Linked DNA regions of Homo sapiens. The protein of the gene in region 3 purifies or fractionates together with the protein of the main gene of each other region. This does not show direct contact. Each region holds a gene or a part of one and is shown on either strand. Other genes may lie near its edges.

What was found. Proteins that work in one complex are often made in the same cells at the same time.
Region 1: the proteins of HIF1A (region 3) and STAT3 purify together in Homo sapiens (affinity purification with western blotting; 4 studies listed by BioGRID). This does not show direct contact.
Region 2: the proteins of HIF1A (region 3) and CUL2 purify together in Homo sapiens (affinity purification with western blotting; 7 studies listed by BioGRID and IntAct, with this or other methods). This does not show direct contact.

Annotation. Positions count from the first base shown.
Region 1 is NC_000017.11:42,329,443-42,336,442, reverse strand, and holds part of STAT3 (signal transducer and activator of transcription 3), read left to right. Parts: intron 1-2,393; coding exon 2,394-2,552; intron 2,553-2,677; coding exon 2,678-2,770; intron 2,771-4,911; coding exon 4,912-4,971; intron 4,972-6,651; coding exon of another isoform or gene 6,652-6,666; coding exon 6,667-6,696; intron 6,697-6,795; coding exon 6,796-6,889; intron 6,890-6,985; coding exon 6,986-7,000. UniProt on the Homo sapiens protein: Signal transducer and transcription activator that mediates cellular responses to interleukins, KITLG/SCF, LEP and other growth factors. Once activated, recruits coactivators, such as NCOA1 or MED1, to the promoter region of the target gene.
Region 2 is NC_000010.11:35,087,342-35,094,436, forward strand, and holds the start of CUL2 (cullin-2), read right to left. Parts: upstream 3,001-7,095; 5' UTR 2,838-3,000; intron 2,661-2,837; exon of another isoform or gene 2,555-2,660; intron 1-2,554.
Region 3 is NC_000014.9:61,698,255-61,705,818, reverse strand, and holds part of HIF1A (hypoxia-inducible factor 1-alpha), read right to left. Parts: intron 1-7,564.

The DNA.
Region 1 (7,000 bases), on a different chromosome or scaffold from region 3:
AATTTTTTATAGAGACAGGGTCTTACTTTGTTGCCTGGGCTGGTCTCAAATTCCTGGGCTCAAGGGATCATCCCACTTCGGCCTCTCAAAAGCTCTGGAATTATAGATGTGAGCTGCCGTGCCCAGCCCAGGATCTTCCTTTATATGCTTTTCTGTAATTTGCACTTTTACCTTCATCCAGCATATCTTACTGCAACCCTTCCTGTGCAAGGCCCTATAGTGAGCATGTTGCACCAGCTTGCCTTAGGAGAAACTTGAGATACAGAGCCTGCACTGGAAATTTAGCGCAACTCTACATGAGAATGCCTGTCTATTCATATCCTCACTAACCCTGAGTGTTGTTAATTTACTGAAAGCAGTTTTAAATGCTTCCTGACCAGGGAACGAAGAAGCTTAAGTTCTGGGAATGGGAGGATAGAAGTGCCAGAAAAGAGCTCAGGAGTTCAGAAATCCCTGCAGCGGTCCCCCTCCCTCTCCTTTCACTTTCTGTCTTTCTGGTCTTTTGGTCTTTGTTACACTAGTGATAAACCATCAAAGAATGATGGAATGATGCTAACTTCTCTCTTTTTTTAATTTTTTTGAGACAGAGTCTCACTCTGTCACCCAGGTTAGAGTGCAGTGGCATGATCTTGGCTTACTGCAACCTCCTCCTCCCAGGTTCAAGCGATTCTTAGTCACAACCTTCCAAGTAGCTGGGATTACAGGCCCATGCCACCATGCCTGGCTATTTTTTTGTATTTTAGTAGATCGACCTGCCTCGGCCTCTCAAATTTTTGGGATTACAGGTGTCAGCCACTGCACCTGGCCTAATATCTCTATTCTTGGAGATAGATTTAATGAGCTTTTTCTCCCTCTCTATTCACTTATTCCTTGTGCATGTTATCAATATTTTGAAACATAATGTCATGTCCTTTGATCAGTTGAAGGCTGACATTGAAAAGGCTTATGGGGATTGGGTGTTGTGGCTCACGCCTGTAAATCCCAATGCTTTGGGAGGCAGAGTCGGGAGGATCACTTGAACCCAGGAGTTTGAGACCAGCCTGGGCAACAAAGTGAGATCCCATCCCTACAAAAATTTAAAAAACTAGACATGTGCCATTACACTTCAGCCTGGGTGACAGAGTGAGACTCCATCTCAAAAAACTAAACTAAACTAAACAGGCATGGTGGCACACACCTATAGTTCTAGCTACTCAGGAAGCTGAGGTAGGAGGATCACTCATGTCCAGGAGTTGGAGGAGGCAGTGAGCTATGATCATGCCATTGCACTGCACTAGGCCACAGAGTGGGACCCTGTCTCAAAAAAAAAAAAAGAAAGAAAGAAAAGAAAGGGCTCATGTAGTTCAAGCCCTTCTCTTCATGCAAGGGGATGCTAAGGCCCATGATGGTGAAGGGCCTGGCAAAGCTTGCACAGATAGTGTGTGACAGAGCTGGCTCAAACCCATCTTTGGGAGCTGTCTAATCTCTTTTTCTGAGTCTTTATGTTCATAGACAAGTTAGGATGAGTAAAGTAAGTGCTAAATTCCATATTTCGTGTTCTGCATATCTGGGCTCAGATGCTTGTCATTTTCCAGTGATAACTCCATCAATGCCTCCTAGTGGTATAAATTTTAATACTTCTTGTGTGCCCAGCCCCCTCTTAGAAATTTGAGATTTTAGGAAGGGACTAGTAATAAAAGGTAAAATAAATTATTTTCTGGCCAGGCATGGTGGCTCACACCTGTAATGCCAGTACTTCGGGAGGTCGAGGCAGATGGATCACCTGAGGTCAGGAGTTCAAGACCAGCCTGGCCAACAAGGCAAAATCCCATCTCTACTAAAAATGCAAAAATTATCCGGGAGTGGTGGTGGGTGCCTGTAATCCCAGCTACTTGGGAGGCTGAGGCAGGAGAATCACTTGAACTTGGGAGGCGGAGGTTGCAGTGAGCTGAGACTGTGCCACTGCACTCCAGCCTGGGCAACAGAGTAAGACTCTATCTCAAAAAAAAAAAAAAAAAAAAAAAGGCCAGGCGCAGTGGCTTACACCTGTAATCTCTCAGGAGGCTCAGGCAGGAGAATCACTTGAACCCGGGAAATGGAGGTTGCAGTGAGCCGAGATTGCACCACTGCACTCCAGCTCAAAAAATAAATAAATAAATAAATTATTTTCTTTTTTTATTTATTTTTTCAGCATCCACCCAACATGGTGAAAAATTCCTCTTTTCTTAATGTCACTGAACTGTAAACTTAAGATGAAAAATTGTAAATTTCATGCTATATATATTTCACCACAATAAAAAAATTCCTTGTTCTTATTGTAGTGGTCTCCATGTCTTCAGTATTTCCTTCCCCTTCTCCATCTCACCTGTATACATTCACTTTGGTAATTAGCATCTTTCTTAATTTATTGGCAGGATAACGTCATTAGCAGAATCTCAACTTCAGACCCGTCAACAAATTAAGAAACTGGAGGAGTTGCAGCAAAAAGTTTCCTACAAAGGGGACCCCATTGTACAGCACCGGCCGATGCTGGAGGAGAGAATCGTGGAGCTGTTTAGAAACTTAATGAAAAGGTAATTTAGCATCCTTGTCCCTTTCCCTCATCTAAAAAATACCTAAAGACTCACGTGGTAGAGTGAGAGGCGGGCTGACTTCTGGTCATGGCCGTGGCGCGTGAGCCCATCTTCTCTTTCCTCAGTGCCTTTGTGGTGGAGCGGCAGCCCTGCATGCCCATGCATCCTGACCGGCCCCTCGTCATCAAGACCGGCGTCCAGTTCACTACTAAAGTCAGGTAGGCCATGCCACTTCCATTTCCAGTAGAGATTTTACTGAGGGACACTGTTAGGGTGAGGGTAGAGTTGGTGGCCAGGGTCATTCTTTCCAGGTGTGGTGTCACAGGCAGTACACTGTTGCGGGGTTGAAATTTGTTGCCATACTATCTGCTTGCTCTCTGATTCTGATGTCAAAAGCAAAAGAGCAGTCATCTTTTTGAAGGTACCTGGGCATATTCCTATGATTGTAGACCTGGAGTCTCAGGCCACAGCTTCTCCTTCTGCCCAAGGGACAAAATAATGTCATCTATTTTCTGTTCTTTGAGGCTACTCTTCCCTGTGGATTTTAAGGGAAAGAGTAAGGCTTAGTGATGGGGAAGCTGAGAGGCCCCAGGGCAGGTGGGTGGTGGGCCTGTAGGGTGAGGTGTTACTTTCACACTCAAGTCAGAACAGGTGTGCTGGGGTTTTGACCTTCTGCAGCAAAATTTCCCTCCTCAGAAACTTAGTATGGTGTTCGGTTTCAGGATTAATAGAACAAAATGCCAGCTGCACAGCATGTGTTCCTGTAATATTTTTCATTATATGGCTTTGATTATCCTTTTGTGAATCTCTCACAACTTTAAGTTGTTAGTTCTTAGATGTTTTCTCAGTACCTTTGGCTTGAAGGAGTGATACTCATCTTTTGTTTTTGTTTGAGACAGGGTCTCACTCTCACCCAGGCTGGTGTGCAGTGGCATGATCTCAGCTCACTGCAACCTCCATCTCCCAGGTTCAAGTGATTCTTGTGCCTCAGCCTCCTGAGTAACTGGGAATAGAGGTGCGTGCCACCACACCCGGCTAATTTTTTTTTTTTTGAGACAGAGTCTCGCTCTTTCGGCCAGGCCAGAGTGCGTGTTGCAATCTCAACTCACTGCAACCTCCACCTCCCAGGTTCAAGCGATTCTCCTGCCTTAGCCTCCCTGAGTAGCTGGACCGGCACACTCCACCATGCCCGGCTAATTTTTGTATTTTTAGTAGAGACAGGGTTTCTCCATGTTGGCCAGGCTGGTCTCAAAACTCCTGACCTCAGTAATCCACCCACCCCGGCCTCCAAAAGTGCTGGGATTACAGATGTGAGCCACCACGCTCGGCCTTTTTTTTTTTTTTTTTTTTTTTGAGATGGAGTCTTTCTCTATCACCCAGGCTAGAGTGCTGAGGTGTGATCTCGGATCACTGCAGCCTCTGCCTCCTGGGTTCAAGTGATTCTCCTGCCTCAGCCTCCCAAGTAGCTGGGATTACAGGTACCTGCCACCATGCCCGGCTGATTTTTGTATTTTTAGTAGAGACGGGGTTTCACCATCTTGGCCAGGCTGGTCTCGAACTCCTGACCTTGTGATCCACCTGCCTTGGCCTCCCAAAGTGCTGGGATTACAGGTGTGAGTCACCGCACCCAGCCCTATTTTAATTTTTTTAAAGAGAGAGATAGGGGCCAGGCACGGTGGCTCTCGCCTGTAATCCCAGCACTTTGGGAGGCCAAGGTGGGTGGATCACCTGAGGTCGGGAGTTCGAGACCATCCTGACCAACATGGAGAAACTCTGTCTCTACTAAAAATACAAAATTAGCTGAGCGTGGTGGCGCGCGCCTGTAATCCCAGCTACTTGAGAGGCTGAGGCAGGAGAATCACTTGAACCCAGGAGGCGGAGGTTGCGGTGAACGGAGATTGCGCCATTGCACTCCAGCCTGGGTAACGAGAGAAACTGTCTCAAAAAAAAAAAAAGAGAAAGAGAGATAGGATCTCGCTCTGTCATCTAGGCTAGAGTGCAGTGGCATGATCATAGATCACTGTAGCCTTGAACTCCTGGGCACAAGTGATCCTCTTGCCTCAGCCTCCCGAGTAACTGCGACTACAGGTACATGCTACCACACCCCGCTAATTTTTAAATTTTTTATAGATGTGGGCTCTCACTTTGTTGCCCAGACTGTTATGGAACTCCTGGGCTCAAGGGATCCTCCCAGCTTGGCCTCCCACAGTGCTGAGATTATAGATGTGAGCCTGTAATTATAGACAGCTTGGCCTATTTACCTGTTGGAAATGAAGAATTATGAATTTTACATTTCTTCAAGAAAAGGTTATGGGAGAGTTACTGACTTTTTTTCCTTGGATTTTTTCTTTTTAAATAGGTTGCTGGTCAAATTCCCTGAGTTGAATTATCAGCTTAAAATTAAAGTGTGCATTGACAAGTAAGTACTCCTATCTTAGCTCTGTTTTTCAAATGAGGAATAGAAAAATGAGAACTTTGACAGACATCATTTGAACTAGAGACTCTGTCTTTATTCAGAGATCTTCATTTTGTGGACAAAAGTTTTCAAAAGCCTTGGGGTGCATTGTCATTTACGTGTCTGAACAAAGCCACAAAGCTGGGGGTACAGATTTGATTTGTGGTTGCTATTGTGACAACCAGTCCCTCTTTTCCTTGTTTAGTTTTTTACTTGTACATGTCATTCATGCATATTATATATAAGACTGAGATCATGTGTTAATTAACGACTGGGATACGTTCTGCAAAATGTATCATTAGGCAATTTTGTTGTGCAAATGTTGTAGAGTATATAGTCCTTACACAAACCTGGGTGGCAGAACCTACTGCACACCTACGCTATGTGGCAGAGCCTACTGGTCGTAGGCTGTAAACCTGTACAGTATGTTACTGTGCTGAATACCGTAGGCAATTGTAACACATCTCAATGAAGTAGGAATTTTTCAGCTCCATGATAATCTTATGGGACCACCATCATATATGCATTTTGTTGTTGACCGAAACGTCGTTATATATTCTTTCCATACATAGCATGTGGAAAGAATAGATCTCTTTTTTTTAATTGTTCCACACTTTACCATATAATGGAATACGCAAAATTTCACAATACCTTTCAGGATGTAAAATACATATACCCTTTGACGACATTAGAAAAGAGAAAATGTGGGCCGGGCGCGGTGGCTCATGCCTGTAATCCCAGCACTTTGGGAGGCCGAGGCGGGCGGATCACGAGGTCAGGAGATCGAGACCATCCTGGGTAACACGGTGAAACCCCGTCTCTACTAAAAATACAAAAAAACTAGCTGGGCGTGGTGGCGGGCACCTGTAGTCCCAGCTACTCAGGAGGCTGAGGCAGGAGAATGGCATGAACCTGGGAGGTGGAGTTTGCAGTGAGCCAAGATCACACCACTGCACTCCAGCCTGGGCGACAGAGACTCCATCTCAAAAAAAAAAAAAAAGAAAAGAAAAGAGAAAATGTGGCTGGGCGCGGTGGCTCACGCCTGTAATCTCAGCACTTTGGGAGGCTGAGGTGGGCAGATCACCTGAGGTCGAGAGTTCGAAACCAGCCCGACCAACATGGAGAAACCTTGTCTCTACTAAAAATACAAAATTAGCCAGGTGTGTTGGCGCATGCCCGTAATCCCAGCTACACGGGAGGCTGAGGCAGGAGAATCACTTGAACTCAGGAGGTGGAGGTTGTGGTGAGCCGAGATCACACCATTGCACTCCAGCCTGGGCAACAAGAGCGAAACTATCTCAAAAAAAAAAAAAGAAAAAAGAAAAGATAAAATGCATTCTTATTTTTAGTTGATGTAATTATGTGGAAATTTCATGAGGATGCACTGGAAAATAATGAAATAAGGGAGTTGACGAAGGTGGTAGGTTTAATAAGTACATATGCAATATGAAACATAGGTTCCCCTTCCTATGGGGAGGCAACCAACTGTGCCTGCTACGCAGAGGTGTTATGTTGCGCTGATCAACTGTAACTGAATAGTTTAAAGAAATGCCCAGGAGCACAGAGGTTTTTTCATGACAGTAAATAACAGGTGGTCAAAGTAGGCTTTTTGAAGAAACACAGAGCCTATTTTATTAACAACAGTCTGTGTTCTTACAGAGACTCTGGGGACGTTGCAGCTCTCAGAGGGTAAGTTCAGCCTAGAGGCTTCCTTTTGTTCCGTTTAACCTAACTTCATCCTCCGGCTACTTGGTCACCTACATAGTTGATTGTTCCCCTGTGATTCAGATCCCGGAAATTTAACATTCTGGGCACAAACACAAAAGTGATGAACATGGAAGAATCCAACAACGGCAGCCTCTCTGCAGAATTCAAACACTTGGTATGTGGGAGGAGCTCCCCTTCACAAAGGGCCTCTGGCTGCCGGAGAGGGCTAGGGAGAGCCTCACAGGACACCTGCCTTTTTCTTTTCTTACAGACCCTGAGGGAGCAG
Region 2 (7,095 bases), on a different chromosome or scaffold from region 3:
TGATGACTCTCCATATCCATTTTCCTCTCTTCACTAGAACTTAAGTTCCATGAAGCCAGAAATTTTTTAACCACTATATCCACACATCTGGTTTAAAGCTGGTGCTTGAGAAGCCCTCGTTGGATGGCTGAATCACTCCTTAACCTCTAAGTTCCACACTTATTTCCAATCACCTACTTCTCACCTCCACTTGAACAACGAAATCCAACTTAACATGTCCAATCCAACCCCATCCCATACAACAGCCTGCTTCCCCCAACCTCTTCTTCATCTCAGTACACAGCATCATCATCCTCCAGCAGAAGCCAAAAACCCAGAATTGACCCATCCCAACTGCATGCTCATCCAAAACATGACAATTTCAATAAGTATCTTCAACTCCAAAATAAATCTCAAAACGTTTTCACTTGTACCTTAACCCTCCACAGCCACTGCTCTTCTCACTGGTCTCCTTGTGTCTCTCTTCTCCAATCAACAGTCTGATTCTCAATCAGACCTCTCAGTTTAGAAGAGTTCCAAAAGCCTTTTAATGTATCTAAGAACAAAGCCAACATGATCCAGCCCCTGGCTAGGACCCACCTTTAATCTCTTACTAGGGTCCACCTTAAGCCAATTTCAGTTTGTTCAATCCAAGTTTGATAGCACCTCAGGGTTTTTCCATTTGTTCCTCCCTAAAATAGGAAAACTGTTCCCTCAGAATTTCAAACTTCACCTCAGGAAGTTCTTTTCTGGTTACAGTATCTGAAGTAATCTCCCAATCACTACCACAACTCCTTACCTTATTTCCCACACAGCACTTATTCTCTGAGATTATTTCTTATATACTGTCTGTCTCTCCATCCCAAGCCAGAAGTGACACTCCAAGAGGATAGAAATTTAATGGGTTGGACAGGTGTGGTGGCTCACGCCTATAATCCCAGCACTCTGGGAGGCTGAGGAGGGCGGATCATGAGGTCAAGAGATCAAGACCACCCTGGCCAACATGTTGAAACCCAGTCTCTACTAAAAATACAAAAATTAGCTGGGCGTGGTGACGTGCGCCTGTAGTGCCAGCTACTCAGGAGGCTGAGGCAGGAGAATTGCTTGAACTGGGAGGTTGCAGTGAGCCCAGATCGTGCCACCGCACTTCAGCCTGGTGACAGAGCGAGACTCCGCCTCAAAAAAAAAAAAAAAAAAAAAAGAAATGTAATGTGTCTTGTTTACCCTTGTAACCTTAATGCCTGCAGCCCTGCTTGACAAATAAACCAGGTGCTTAATAAATATCTGTCAACTGCCAGACAACGCAAAAATGACTTTAAAGAAGGTCCATAACGTTTAATCTAGTGACAAACTGGTGAGGGTAAAAGACATGGATAATCTTCACATTTATAGAACACTGAAAGCCACCAGCAAGGATGGAGAATGAAGAGTATTTCAGATGCAGGAGAACATCCAAATACTCAAAAAGCAATTGAAAAGGAATTTTTCCCACGCTATGTGCATGCACATTGTAGAAATGTTCCCCCAACTCATAAACAGCAATTGAAAAAAACAAGTAATTCAAAACACTGTGGGCTGGGCGCAGTAGCTCAGGCCTGTAATCCCAGCACTTTGGGAGGCCTAAGCAGGCGAATCACCTGAGGTCAGGAGTTCAAGACCAGCCTGGCCAACATGGTGAAACCCCATCTCCACTAAAAATACAAAATTAGCCGGGCATGGTGGCGCATGCCAGTAATCCCAGCTACATGGAAGGCTAAGGCAGAAGAATTGCTTGAACCCGGGAGGCGGAGGTTGCAGTGAGCCGAGATCGCACCACTGCACTCCAGCCTGGGTGACAAGAGCAAAACTCCATCTCAAAACAAAAAAACTGTGTACTTCTCTTATCTCACGCGACTCTTTTGGAAGGATCTTCCAGATACTGTATAAGGGCAAAAGAAGCAAAGTATAGCTCATTTGTTCATGTGTCTGTCTTGAAAAGGAATGTAAGATTCTAAAGGGTAGGCAACAGTGTTTTGAATGTTTTTAAGCGATTATTATGTAGTCAGTTGTCAATCAGATCAAAGTGATTATTTCCGATACTTTACTACGAAGGTAGGCTTGGCCAGGTCTAGTTCAAAGACGTTTATGTTGAACAGTCACAATCTATAGCGAACGTTAATATTTTGCATCTTATCTTCAAAATTTAAACGCCCAGGGTACTGGCCTTCAACTGTTAATATTAATCCATGGGGCAAAGATGTGGACTTAACATTAATAACAGTCTGCAATTCACAGATGTTTTATTTGCATGCACGTAATGGTAGGGAATGGTCCAGACTCTCTAGAGGGTAAGCAAGTGCTAGAAAGCGTGTGAGGATCTTATTTCACCAGACCCTAAGGGTTGAGACAAGAAGTCTAGCATGCACGTAGGATACTCCTCCCCAAAGCTATCAATCTTTGCAGTCTGCGGAAACAAAAGTGAAAACACTCGGGGTAAGGATGCATGAGATGCCCCCCCCCACACACACACACAAACACACAGAGTTGTGTATTCGTGTGAGCACGTAAATATGTAGAAGAATACACGCACTCTCACCTTCCCTCCTTCGAAGGAAAATGGGGCCGCGGGAGAGGCGGCCAAGATCGGGTTGGGGAGGCCCGGGATCCAGTCCAGGGGGTGGCAGGGCTTACGGGTCAGCGCTCTGGGGAGCCGAGGTCACTTACAGGATACCATCTTCCCGGGCCTCCCCCTTTCATCCCTCTCCCCACACCTCGTCGCCCCCAACTCCTCTCCTCCGCCCCAGCCCCGCCACCCATTAACCGGGAAGGGAAGTTTCCCGGCGCCTGCAGCCCGGCTCCCCGACCCTCAGCGGGGTTACCTTCTGCAGAAGCAGGGCAAGGGGCAGGGGACAAGGGGAGGGGGAGGCAGCCCGAAGGAGTGAAAGACGAAGCCCCGGCGAGGAAGGTGGGCGGAGGCGGCGGCGGCGGCGGCTGTCAGCTCGCGTTCCCCTGCTCACAGCGCTGCCATTACTGTGCGCCGAGGCCGCCTCCCCGGCCGGCCGCCGCCACCGGCCCCGGAGACGCGGGGGGTGGGGAGCGAAGCCCGGGGAGCCCGCGCGCCGACACTCACCTGTCTCCGCGAGGAAAGACAGCAAAGTCCAAGGCCGCCGCCGCTCCCCGGCGGGACAGGGGCGGTAGGGAGGGGGGGAAAGGGGAGAAGGACGGGCCGATCACGGGATCCGTAAAACAATCGTCCTCCTCTGCCTCCGGCTTTGCCCAACACACACCCTCCGGTCTCCTTCTTCCGCTGCTGCCAAATCCCCCCCGCCACCCGGAAAGCAATGGTACAGGCCGCGTTACGGCAAGCGCAGGGAGCCAAGCTTCGTGTGATTGCGAAAGGCCACGGAAATTAATATTCCAAGTGATTCCTTGCTGGGCTTGCTGTCAATGAGGCAATTGCGGTTCGCTGAGCTGATGGACACAGTACCCACCCACTACCCGTTAGTTCAGGGACTGCTAATAACAATATGTTGGAATGGTGCTTTCAACAGAAGTATGTTTTCCTTGTTTCAGACCTATGTGAATATCCTAAGACACCACAATCCTCTTGCCACACACTTCCATGGGCTTTGCAAATGATCAAAAATAAATTAGCAAAACTACTTTTCCTCTCTGACAAACTCTTTTTCTTGTTAGTTTTTATCTACAGAGAATTTCTTGGACATACATGTATTTTCGATAAAGAAACTTCACATCTTTTTCACTAATACCCCACCTTCACCAAGCCCCAAGCCTATCAGTTTGAAGGGTTTTCCTCCCTTGGAGTTTTAAACGGTAAAGCTGATAAAAATATAGAATTACTCATCACCTCCTCATATATGCAGGGCCACAGAGGAACAAAAGCCCGGCCTTAGTGCTTTTTGCCTTTCATATCCTCAAGAGCTCACCATCAGGGTCTTGTTCATTTATACGATTCAGCAAGCTTTTCCCTCCCATCCCTTCCTTCCAAACTGCACGAACCCTTCAAGGCCCATTTAAAACCCTGCCTCCAGACCTGATCAGTCCCTAGAGCCTTCCTCCTCTTCTAATCTGCTTCTCTTGGTACTTGAAGTCTCTACTCTTTATTTCAGTAAAGGGTTTTTATATACGAAATTCAATCCAACAGTATGTTTCCATTATGTGACCTTTTTTTCCTCCCATGTTTTCCCCCTTTTAATCTAGTGATTCTCAAAGTGTGGTCCCCAGACCTCTGGAAATCCCTGAGACCTTTACAGAGGTCATAAGGTTAACAACTAGTTTGTTAACAATGCAATATGTCTGGTCCTTTTTTTTTTTGGATACAGAGTCTTGCTCTGTCACCCAGGCTGGAATGCAGTGGCGGCACAATCTCAGCTCACTGCAACCTGCACCTCCCGGGTTCAAGTGATTCTCCTGTCTCAGCTTCCCGAGTAGCTGGTATTACAGAAGCCCGCCACCACACCCGGCTAATTTTTTGTATTTTGTAGAGACAGGGTTTCACCATGTCACCACATTGCCCAGGCTGGTCTTGAACTCCTGAGCTCAGGCAATCCACCCACCTCAGCCTCCCAAAGTGCTAGGATTACAGGCCTGAGCCACCGTGTCAGGCCCCCCCTGCTTTTTGTTTTGTTTTGTTTTTGTTTTTGACACAGGGTCTCCCTCTGTCGCTGAGGCTGGAGTGCAGGAGTGCAGTGGCCTGATCATAGCTCACTGCGGCCTCAAACTCCTGGGCTCAAGCGAGTGTACCATCTCAGTTTCCGAAGCAGCTGTGACTACAGGCGCGTGCGCCACCACACCCAGCTAATTTTTGTATTTTTGGTAGACATGGGGTCTCACTATGTTGCCCAGGCTCCTCTGGAACTCCTGAGCTCAAGCGATCTGCCCACCTCAGCCTCCCAAAAGTTCTGGGATTACAGGAGTGAGCCACCATGCCTGGCCTCCTCTGTCTTTTTGACTGAGTTTGTTTTTGTACTGATGGTGCAAAGGAATACGGACACTATTGATGCCTTAGCAGGGATCAAGACAGTGCCACCAACCTGTCCGGGTGGTCATTGGATCGCTGTATTCTTCACTGCCATACATTCCCAGTTTTTAAGGCTATTGATTTAGGAATATCCTGGATGAAGCGGAAGCATTAATTTTATTAAATTTTGGCCCTTGAATACAAGTCTTTCTAATACTCTGTGTGAAGAAATGGGAAGTACACATGCACTTCTGCATGCCAAAGTGGGATGGCTGTCTTGAAGAAAAGCACTTGTGTGGTTGACTTACAGGCTGAACTACCTGCATTTTTCATGGTGAAACTGCCTTTGCAAAACATGATAGTAAGAGGAATCTGACCTCATTGATTTAATCTTGCTTCTGACCTCCAAGGTGTTCCTGGTCATTCCTGGGCATAGGCCAACTTAATTTGGGGAGGAAGTTAGTTTATGGTTTAACTTGAAAGCTAAGTTCCTCCCTAAAACTACCCCTGCTCTTGCTTAGGGATGAAAAACCACCTTTGGAAGACTAATGAAAAGCAGCAAGAATAGGATTATGGGAGGGGTGTGAACTTTGCTAAAGTGTAGGCATATTTCTATTAATATACTCCCTTACTGCTCAGGGGTCATGTGGCCAGAGGTCACAAGATTTGTGACTTCCCCAGTTGCTCCTATAAATAACATCAGTATTGTACAACTTTAGATTGCTTTTTGAGATATTTTTCAGACTGACCCCACCTGGACTCGTGACTCATGACTCAGAACTGGTCCTATGGCCCCACCCAGAGGCAGGCTCAGCACTCAAGGACTGTTTTCCACACCCCTATGATTCCATCCCCAACCCATCAGCAGAACCCATTCTCTAGTCCCCTGCTCACCAAATTGTCCATAAAAACCCCAACCTCCAACCCAGGGGGAGACTGATTTGAGTGATAACTCCAGTTCTCCTATGTGACTGGCCTTGGGTCAATTAAACACTTTCTCTACTGCAATACCTTGGTCTCGGTGAATTTTGTCTGTGCAGTAGCCAAGAAGAACCCATCTGGCCATTACAATGGAAGGCCATTTTTACTTGAAAGAACAATTGACAGACTTGGTGGCTCATGCCTCCCAGCACTTTGGGAGGCTGAGGTGGGCAGATCTCTTGAGTGTAGGAATTTGAGATCAGCCTGGACAATATAGCAAAACCCCATCTCTACAAAAAATACAAAATTTAGCCAGGCATGGTGGTGTGTGCTGGTAGTCACAGCTTCTTGGGAGGCTGAGGTGGGAGAATCACTTGAACCTGGGAGGCAGATGTTGCAGTGAGCCAAGATCACGCCATACTGCACCCAGCCTGGGCAATAAAGGCAGACCTTCTCTCAAAAAAAAAAAAAAAAAAAAAAGAAAAGAAAAGAAGAAGAAATTACCACTTGTTGAATTTCACTATAGTATCAAAGAAGAATATCCATAATTATCCAAAAAGACTATTTAATTTTCTTTCAAAGGCCTGAGTTTCTTCATATATTTCAACCATAGAGAACCTAGCTATCTTCTATTAAATCAAATATTTAGAGAGTTGCAAAAATACAAAAGCAATCCTTTTCCTCTGATCAAATTTTTTTTATTTTGGAAAATATGGTTATTTTTCATAAAAGCATGCAATTTATGTTAAATGTGTTTGGTTTATTATTTTTAAAATTAATCAGTAATTTAAAAATTTTTATCCTTTAAATTTCTAATACAATAACTATTTATAGATAGATAGTTTCCTGAGGCCTCCCTAGACACTGAGCAGATGCCAGGATCGTGCTTCTTGTACAGCCTGCAGAACCATGAGCCAATTAAACCTCTTTATTTCATCAATTACACAGTCTCAGGTATTTCATTATAACAATACAAGAATGGCATAATACAATAGATATAACCCACATGAACATAAGCTCTTCTAAGTCCTCGATAATTTTTTTTTTTTTTGAGATGGAGTTTCGCTCTTGTTGCCCAGGCTGGAGTGCAATGGTGCGATCTTGGCTCACTGCAACCTCCGCCTCCCAGGTTCAAGCTATTCTCCTGCCTCAGCCTCCCGAGTAGCTGAGATTACAAGCACGTGCCACCACGCCCAGCTAATTTTGTATTTTTAGTAGAGATGGGGTTTCACCAT
Region 3 (7,564 bases):
TTTCCAACTATACTAATCCATCCTATCCAATATTACCAAATAAATTTTCCAAAGTGACCTTCTGATCCTGTTTCTTTGTCTTTAAAAAGGGTTAGGTAACACTATTAGTGTGTGGCAGATCTCAGATTCCACCTGAGAATCTCCACCCTTTTCCCCATTTTAATATGAAGCCCCATTTTTAATATGGCCTATGCCTTTCCACAAATCAGATGCTCAATATATAATTTTTAAATTAAAAGATTCAAGAAATTTGGGACTATTTTTTAAGAATAGAAGGAAGAAACATGATAGCTACCCTCAGATATTTGAAAAGGATATCAAACAAAAGGCGGATTTGGTAATTTATACAACTCCAGAGAGTAATAAATAGGAATTACAACATGGCAGTGCTTTGTTTAATAGAGTTAAAGCAGTGTTGAAGTTACACTCTATGAGAATTTTTAAAACCGTGTTTTCATTTTGGTGGCATTGTAAAAAAAGAAAAGGCATATTCTACATCATCTAAATGATCTCTCCATAGTTCTGTATACTTGCCTCAAGCCTTCTGTGTTTGAGGCTGCATTTGTTTATGATCAAACTGTTACCAAATGACCACTAAAAGGAACAAGGTTACATTTTTTAATGCAGTATACATACTCAGACTGAGGTCACTGGGTACATCTCAAAAATTCAGAGGATTATTTTGCTCCAAAAGAGATCTGAACATTAATCCTGTGTTAAGAAACACAGGAATAAAAAAGAAAATAAGTAGATTGTCTTGTGAGAATGTTTTGTGTATGTATGTCTGAAAATTCTAAAAGCAGACTGGCCAATGCGCCTGTGGTGGTTGACATTAAATAACAAAACTTAAACCCAAAAGTCTGTACTTCGCAAGAACCTCAAACTTTAAAGTGCAATGAACTGAAAATTTAAAAATGGAATATGCTATGAATGAATGAATGAACATAAAAAATGGAATGTTCAACTGTGGCCTAAGCCATCAACGATTCAATGCTGTACTCAATAAATTAGCTGCACAAATACCTGTTGAATAAATGAATGCACAACAATCTGTTACAGGACATAGTATAATAGTTAGGTGCCTGAGTCATGGTTAAGCGTTGAAGAAATTTTTTGAACCACTGAAATAAGTCAACTTAAATTATTCAAGAAAATATCCCTTCATCCATTCACAGTGAAGGCTTTGACTACTGGTTTGACACTATAACCATTTAAATATTTTAACTATGTTAGCTACAAAGGCAGGCAATATCCAACTTTCCTCTGCTAACAAGTTAAAAGACATTTAATGAGATTCTGGACACAAAGGACATGGAAATGTAGGCTTTCTTAATTTCCCCCTCCTTTAACATCCCAAATAAATAGCTTTGAGAACATTTTTCTTCCTTTAGTATTACCACTATGGAAAATTATTTTAGAATAACATGTCTATACATAAACCAGTATTTAGTCTGCAAAGGCCAGATGTTTATGGAAAAAAAACCAAGTAAAGGAAAAGCATCAGTAACTATTCTGCCACTATTATTTACTCACTGGTGGTGAATAGCCTTCGTCAGATTATCACAAAGAAGGCTTGAGCGATTCTAAACAATGTTGAAAACAACTTAACCAATACTATAATATTATGAATATATGGATAGTTTCTACTTAATTAAGCCCTTACTTTGTGCCAAGAGCTGTTCTGAGTGTTTCATATGAGTTGATGTATCATTTCATTCTCATAACAATCCTATAAGGCAATTATTCTTATCATCCCAATAAAGCAATTTGTGTAAGATCACACAGTAGAGCTAAACGATCTAGAAAAATGTGTGATCTTAACACATATTTAGTAGAGAAAAGGATCATCTTTTTCTTGAGATGAAAACCCTAACCCATAGAAGAAATACTCAACTTCCCAAAAGTCATGACAAGAACAGCTTGCAGAATGACTACACTTGGTAGAAAACTATAGAATATGAATTCAAATGACTTGCAACAAAAACTCATGGCCCATTAATTACTGGTCAAGAGTTCTGTGTATAGTAAGATAATATTCTACAAGAAGACCATCAAATATGCTACAATAAGACATATTTGACTCATGTAATCAGGGAACTCCATTCACATGGCCAAGTAGGGCAAAACGTTTTCTTCTAGGAAACTGATATATAGACACTAGAAGAGAGAGGGAGTTTTTTTTACTTTTTTTTTTTTTATATTACAAACTGTATGGATGCAGGTATGGGGATGCTAGCCGTCCTCTTCCACACCATACAGACAGCCTGTCAGTGGCAGAGTAAGGCCAGCATGCAAATAGAGCAAAGGTATACAAGCCAAGTAATATCAAGACAAAAGTCAGGGATTATTACACTCTGAGATCATTTGAGACTCTAGATTTGTCTCTTAAACCAAAATTAGATTGTGTTAGCCAATGACTACATTTTCCCCTCTTAAACTAGATTGAGTTGTATTTTGCTACTTGCAATAAGAAGAATCCTAATATACTTATCAAATTGCCAGTGTTCCAAATTTAAAACTTTAATGATGATAAAGTTCAAGAAAATGACACTCTAAAATACAACTAGGTCAAACTTTCTAGAAGATAAACAGGCAATTACATTGAAAGCTTTAAAATGGATACTTTTTGACCCTGTAATTCTACTTCTTCTAATTTATTATTAAGAAAGAACCATGAGGCCGGGCATGGTGGCTCACGCCTGTAATCTCAGCACTTTTCTCACTTTTTTGAGAATAGGTTTGATAAAAAGGCAGTAATGGTAAAACAGACTATATCTGAAATCTGGAGAGTATTAAGAGCCATATATTATGTTAAGTACCCAACATTAATATTATCTAATTTAACCATCACCACAAGCCTACAAAATTCTGATACTCTTCCTCACTATTTAGATGGGAAAAAATGTAGATGTAAATTTTTTAAAAGCAGGTTAAAAACAGTACTCAGTCCCTAATCCTACAGTTATTAACATACAGATGTAACACAGAATTGAGAAATAGTAGACAATGGTCTCTACATAGTGAAAAAGCAGGTGATTTTTATTTCTTTGTGCACCTGTGTAGTTTTTAAATTTTTTCCTCCAAAATTTTAAAATTTCATTAACATTAAAATAGTTTAGCCAGATCAAATGATTGTAAACACACTCAGGGAACTCCTATTTAAATGGTATTCTATTATAAAGCAAAGAGAATAATCAATGCTCTTCTATTATAAAGCAAAGAAAATAAACCCCAACCTTACTATAAAGTAATAGAATTTAAATATCTATATCAAAAAAAGTCAAAGGAGATTCTTTAACTTTCTTCTTACCAATCAGTGAATCTCAGACAGGGAACTAAAGAATTAAAACATTCTTTTTAATTTTTTTTTTTTTTTTTTGGAGACAGCATCTCACACTGTCATCAGGCTGGAGTGCAGTGGCGCGATCTTGGCTCACTGCAACCTCTGCTTCCCAGGTTCAAGCGATTCTCCTGCCTCAGCCTCCGAGTAGCTGGGATTACAGGCATGTGCCACCACATCCTGCTATTTTTTTTTTTTTTTTTTTGTATTTTTAGTAGAGACGGGGTTTCTCCAAGTTGGTCAGGCTTGTCTTGAACTCCTGACCTCAGGTGATTCACCTGCCCCGGCCTCCCAAAATGGTGGGATTACAGGCAGGAGCCACCGTGCCGGGCCGACAATATTTCTAAAGAAACCTTTTAAAAACCTGCATTCTCTTTGTTCATCCAATTATTCAATCATTGTCTCATTTGTTAATTCAAATACTTATTAAGAGCTCACTGTGTACACCACGTACCAGTATTCACACCACAGATTTCTTTTTTAATTTTTTTGAAACACAGTCTTGCTCTGTCACCCAGGCTGGAGTGCAATGGGGCGATCTTGGCTCACCGCAACCTCCGCCTCCCAGGTTCAAGCAATTCTCCTGCCTCAGCCTCCTAAGTAGCTGGGATTACAGGCACCCGCCACCACGCCTGGCTAATTTTGGTATTTTTAGTAGAGATGGGGTTTCACCATGTTGGCCAGGCTGGTCTCGAACTCCTGACCTCAGGTGATCCACCCACCTCGGCATCCCAAAGTACTGGGATTACAAGCATGAGCCACCGCGCCCAGCCCACAAATTTCAAATTCAGCCTACTTGGGATTTGGTCCACTGAAACATATCCAGTTTTATAATGGAAAGGGGGAGGGTAGAAATCATTTTAAAGAAATTTGCTTAGCATCTGAATTTACAAGACTCTTAAGAACAGAAACGTATCCCAACCCTCAAAGACTTCAACTTTCGCCTTTAAACCTTATTTTTAACCATAGTATTTTTCAGCTGGAAAAACAAATCCTCCCAAACTACTTGGAAAAAAAAAAGGGGGAAACACGGGGGACCTGTCCTTAATGAGTGAAAATTGCAATATTAAATACTAGACACTTTTAAATTAATTTGCCTAAATATATTGTGACTTTTCAAACAAGTGAAGAACTACATACAGTAAACTATGTTCCATCACTACATTTTCCCATTTACAAGATAATAAATTTTCAAAATCATATGTTGAAATAATCTTTATGGTTAAAACTGTAACCGGTTAAGGTGAAATTTTAAAATAAAGAAACACTCATAAATAACAGTTGAGATCACCAGAACAGCTAAAAGCTAACATCTTGGGAACAGTTTTTAATAAAAATACATTATTTCAATTATTGTTTTAAATCTTAGAGAACAAATTTCCTAATTAAATTGGGCTTTATCAACAATAGAACAGGTGTACACTATTTTACCCAAAAAGTGTTTCTGTGAAAAAGTACTGGCATAACAAATCTAAGTCACTAGAAAAATTGAATTCTCCTTTTAGAGGTACTTACTCTCCTTTCAGTTAAAGCTTCCACTGGCAAACTGTAGTTAGCTTTCAGCTGGTTAATTATCCACAAACAAGCCCTTAAAAACAATCACTTCAACATATTAGATGGCTACCACTTTGCCACATTAGATGGCTAAGAAAGAAAGAGAAGAGAAGGAAGGAAAGAAAGAAAACAAGTGTTTAGAAGGATGTGGAGAAATAGGAACCCTTGTGCACTGTTGGTGGGAATGTAAACTGGTGCAACTGCTATAGAAAACAATATGGTGGTTCCTTGAAAATTAAAAAGGGTTACCATATGATCCAGCATCCCTCTTCTGGATATGTATCCAAAAAAAGTGAAAGCTTCAAAGAGAGATTTGCAGACTCATGTTCAGAGCAGCACAATAACCAAGATGTGGAAGCAACCCAAGTGTCCGTTGCTGGATGAATGGAGAAACAAAATATGGAACATATAATGGAATATTGCTCAGACTCAAAAAGGAAGGAAATTCTGACACATGCTACAACATGGATGAACCTTGAGGACATTACACAAAGTGAAATAAGCCCATCACAAAAATATTAAAACCCTATAATTCTATTTATATGAGGCATCTAGAGTAGTTAAATTTGCAGAAACAGAAAGTAAAATGGTGGTTGCCAGAGGCTGAGGAGAGGGGGAAATTGGGAGTTGTTTAATGGGTAAGATTTCAGCTTTGCAAGATGAAAAAGTTCTGGAAGTTAGTGGCACAATGTGAATATACTTAACACTACTGAACAGTACTTAGAAATGGTTAAGATGGTAAATTTTAGGTTAATGTTTTTGAACTACGATTTTAAAAAACAATCAAAAGCTATAAGAAAAAAGCCATGAGGTAATCACATTTTTGTTTTTATGAAACAAAAATTTTAAATTTTGTTTTAAAAATTCAGGTTTTAGATACTAGATTTCTCTAAAGGGATCATGTCTGGCAAATAAATAAGGGTTTATAAATTTCTACTGCAGAAAACATGAACATTAATACTCAACGCATATACAAAACAGTTAATTCTTGATGTGTCAAGAGACCAAGAGATATAATTATTTTTAAAATTCCAAAGCCTATAGTTAATTTAAACAATCTGACCATATTTTTACCAAAAATACTGAGCAACAAGAAGCTTGGCTTGTCTTAGTTTCAAATTCTCTTTCTAACCTTCCAGAGTTAAGCAGAAAACACATACACACACTGGGTAAAATCCACCCACTGGATAACTAGTCACAAAGTTTAAAAAATCAATTTCTTGATTGGAAACTCATCCAACATCACATTTAAATTTAGATTTTTTTATCCTGGTTAAGAAACAGACTTATGTTAATCTTAGATAAAGGGATACAGTATTTTAAGTATCTAAATTTAAAAAATTATATACTAAGAGAAGGCATCTATGAACACACAATTTAACCCAAATCTTTAACATCCATGCACATCAATTTTTATTTCACCACCAAACATAATAAACTGAGTTCTTCAGAAAAAAAAAAAAAATCAGTCAAGAGACTAAATAATCCCCCTCAGCTTTCTATACACCACTCTTGACATACAAGAATAGAATGTAACCACAAAATCTAAACCCTGAGCCGTGACACCATTAGAGTCACAGACAATGGCGTTAAAAGTAAAGACAATGGAAGTTAACAGGTAGAAAAGTTGACATTCTCCAAACTGCACAAGGTGCTCTGCAGTGGACCGTAGGAATGAACTCCAATACTTTCTCAGTCTAAAATAACTCGATAGTTCAGTAAATACACACGTGTGGAAGAGTGCATAGACTTCATACAAATTGAGCCACAAAACAGACCAGTAAGACAAGCTTGAAGTCTTGCCTTCAGATGGAACCCAATGGTCTTAACTCTGGAGAAACTCATAAGCAAAGGACAGTTTTTCTACCACGTAGCTGCTTTACTGAGAATATTTTATCAACTCATTATCTTTTACAAAGGTTAATTTTTATAAAATTGTCTAAACTTTGGCATCAAGACGAAAAATGTTTTAACTTACTGCCAGTACTAAGAATGCAGTGTCTTGCACATATCTTGCTTAAATGAACAGTAAGACTAGAATACTGTGTATGTTTGACTCTAGAGTCCAGAGTAAACTCAGTATTCTATTTGGGGAGAAAACACAGGGGTGAGCAATTGTGAAGCAGGAGGCCTCCACTAGAGTAGAGAGCAGATCAGATGCTCAAGAAAAATAACTGATACTAGGTGCCAATATAACCCAAGGATGTACTCTTTTGCCCATTGTAACAGGAAAAAAACGCTTTTCAAGCTCTGGATCCAATGTTAGTCTTTTCACTTTCAGGAGATAGAAAAGATGCATGAAGACACAGAAAAGAAACTAAAGGAAACAGCTGGAAGGACTAGCAAAAAAGAGTTTTAAGAGTTGTGGAAGTTTAAACAAGAATTTTAACAGGTAACATCTATTTTCAAGTACACAGTGTCATCAAGACTCCTGCAATGGGCTAAGTGCTTCACAAGCATTATCTCATTTAACCTTTACAATAACTGCTCAGATGGCTGCTATTCTTATCATCATTTCAAAAGGAGGAAAGAGGCTCAGAGGCATTCAGTAACTTGCTCAAGCTCACAAGTGAAGGGCTGGGACCCTTAACTCAGAGGTATCTGCCTCTAGATCCTATGCTCTTAACCACCATATGCTGCTTCCTCAAACAAAAGGACAATCAAAATAGA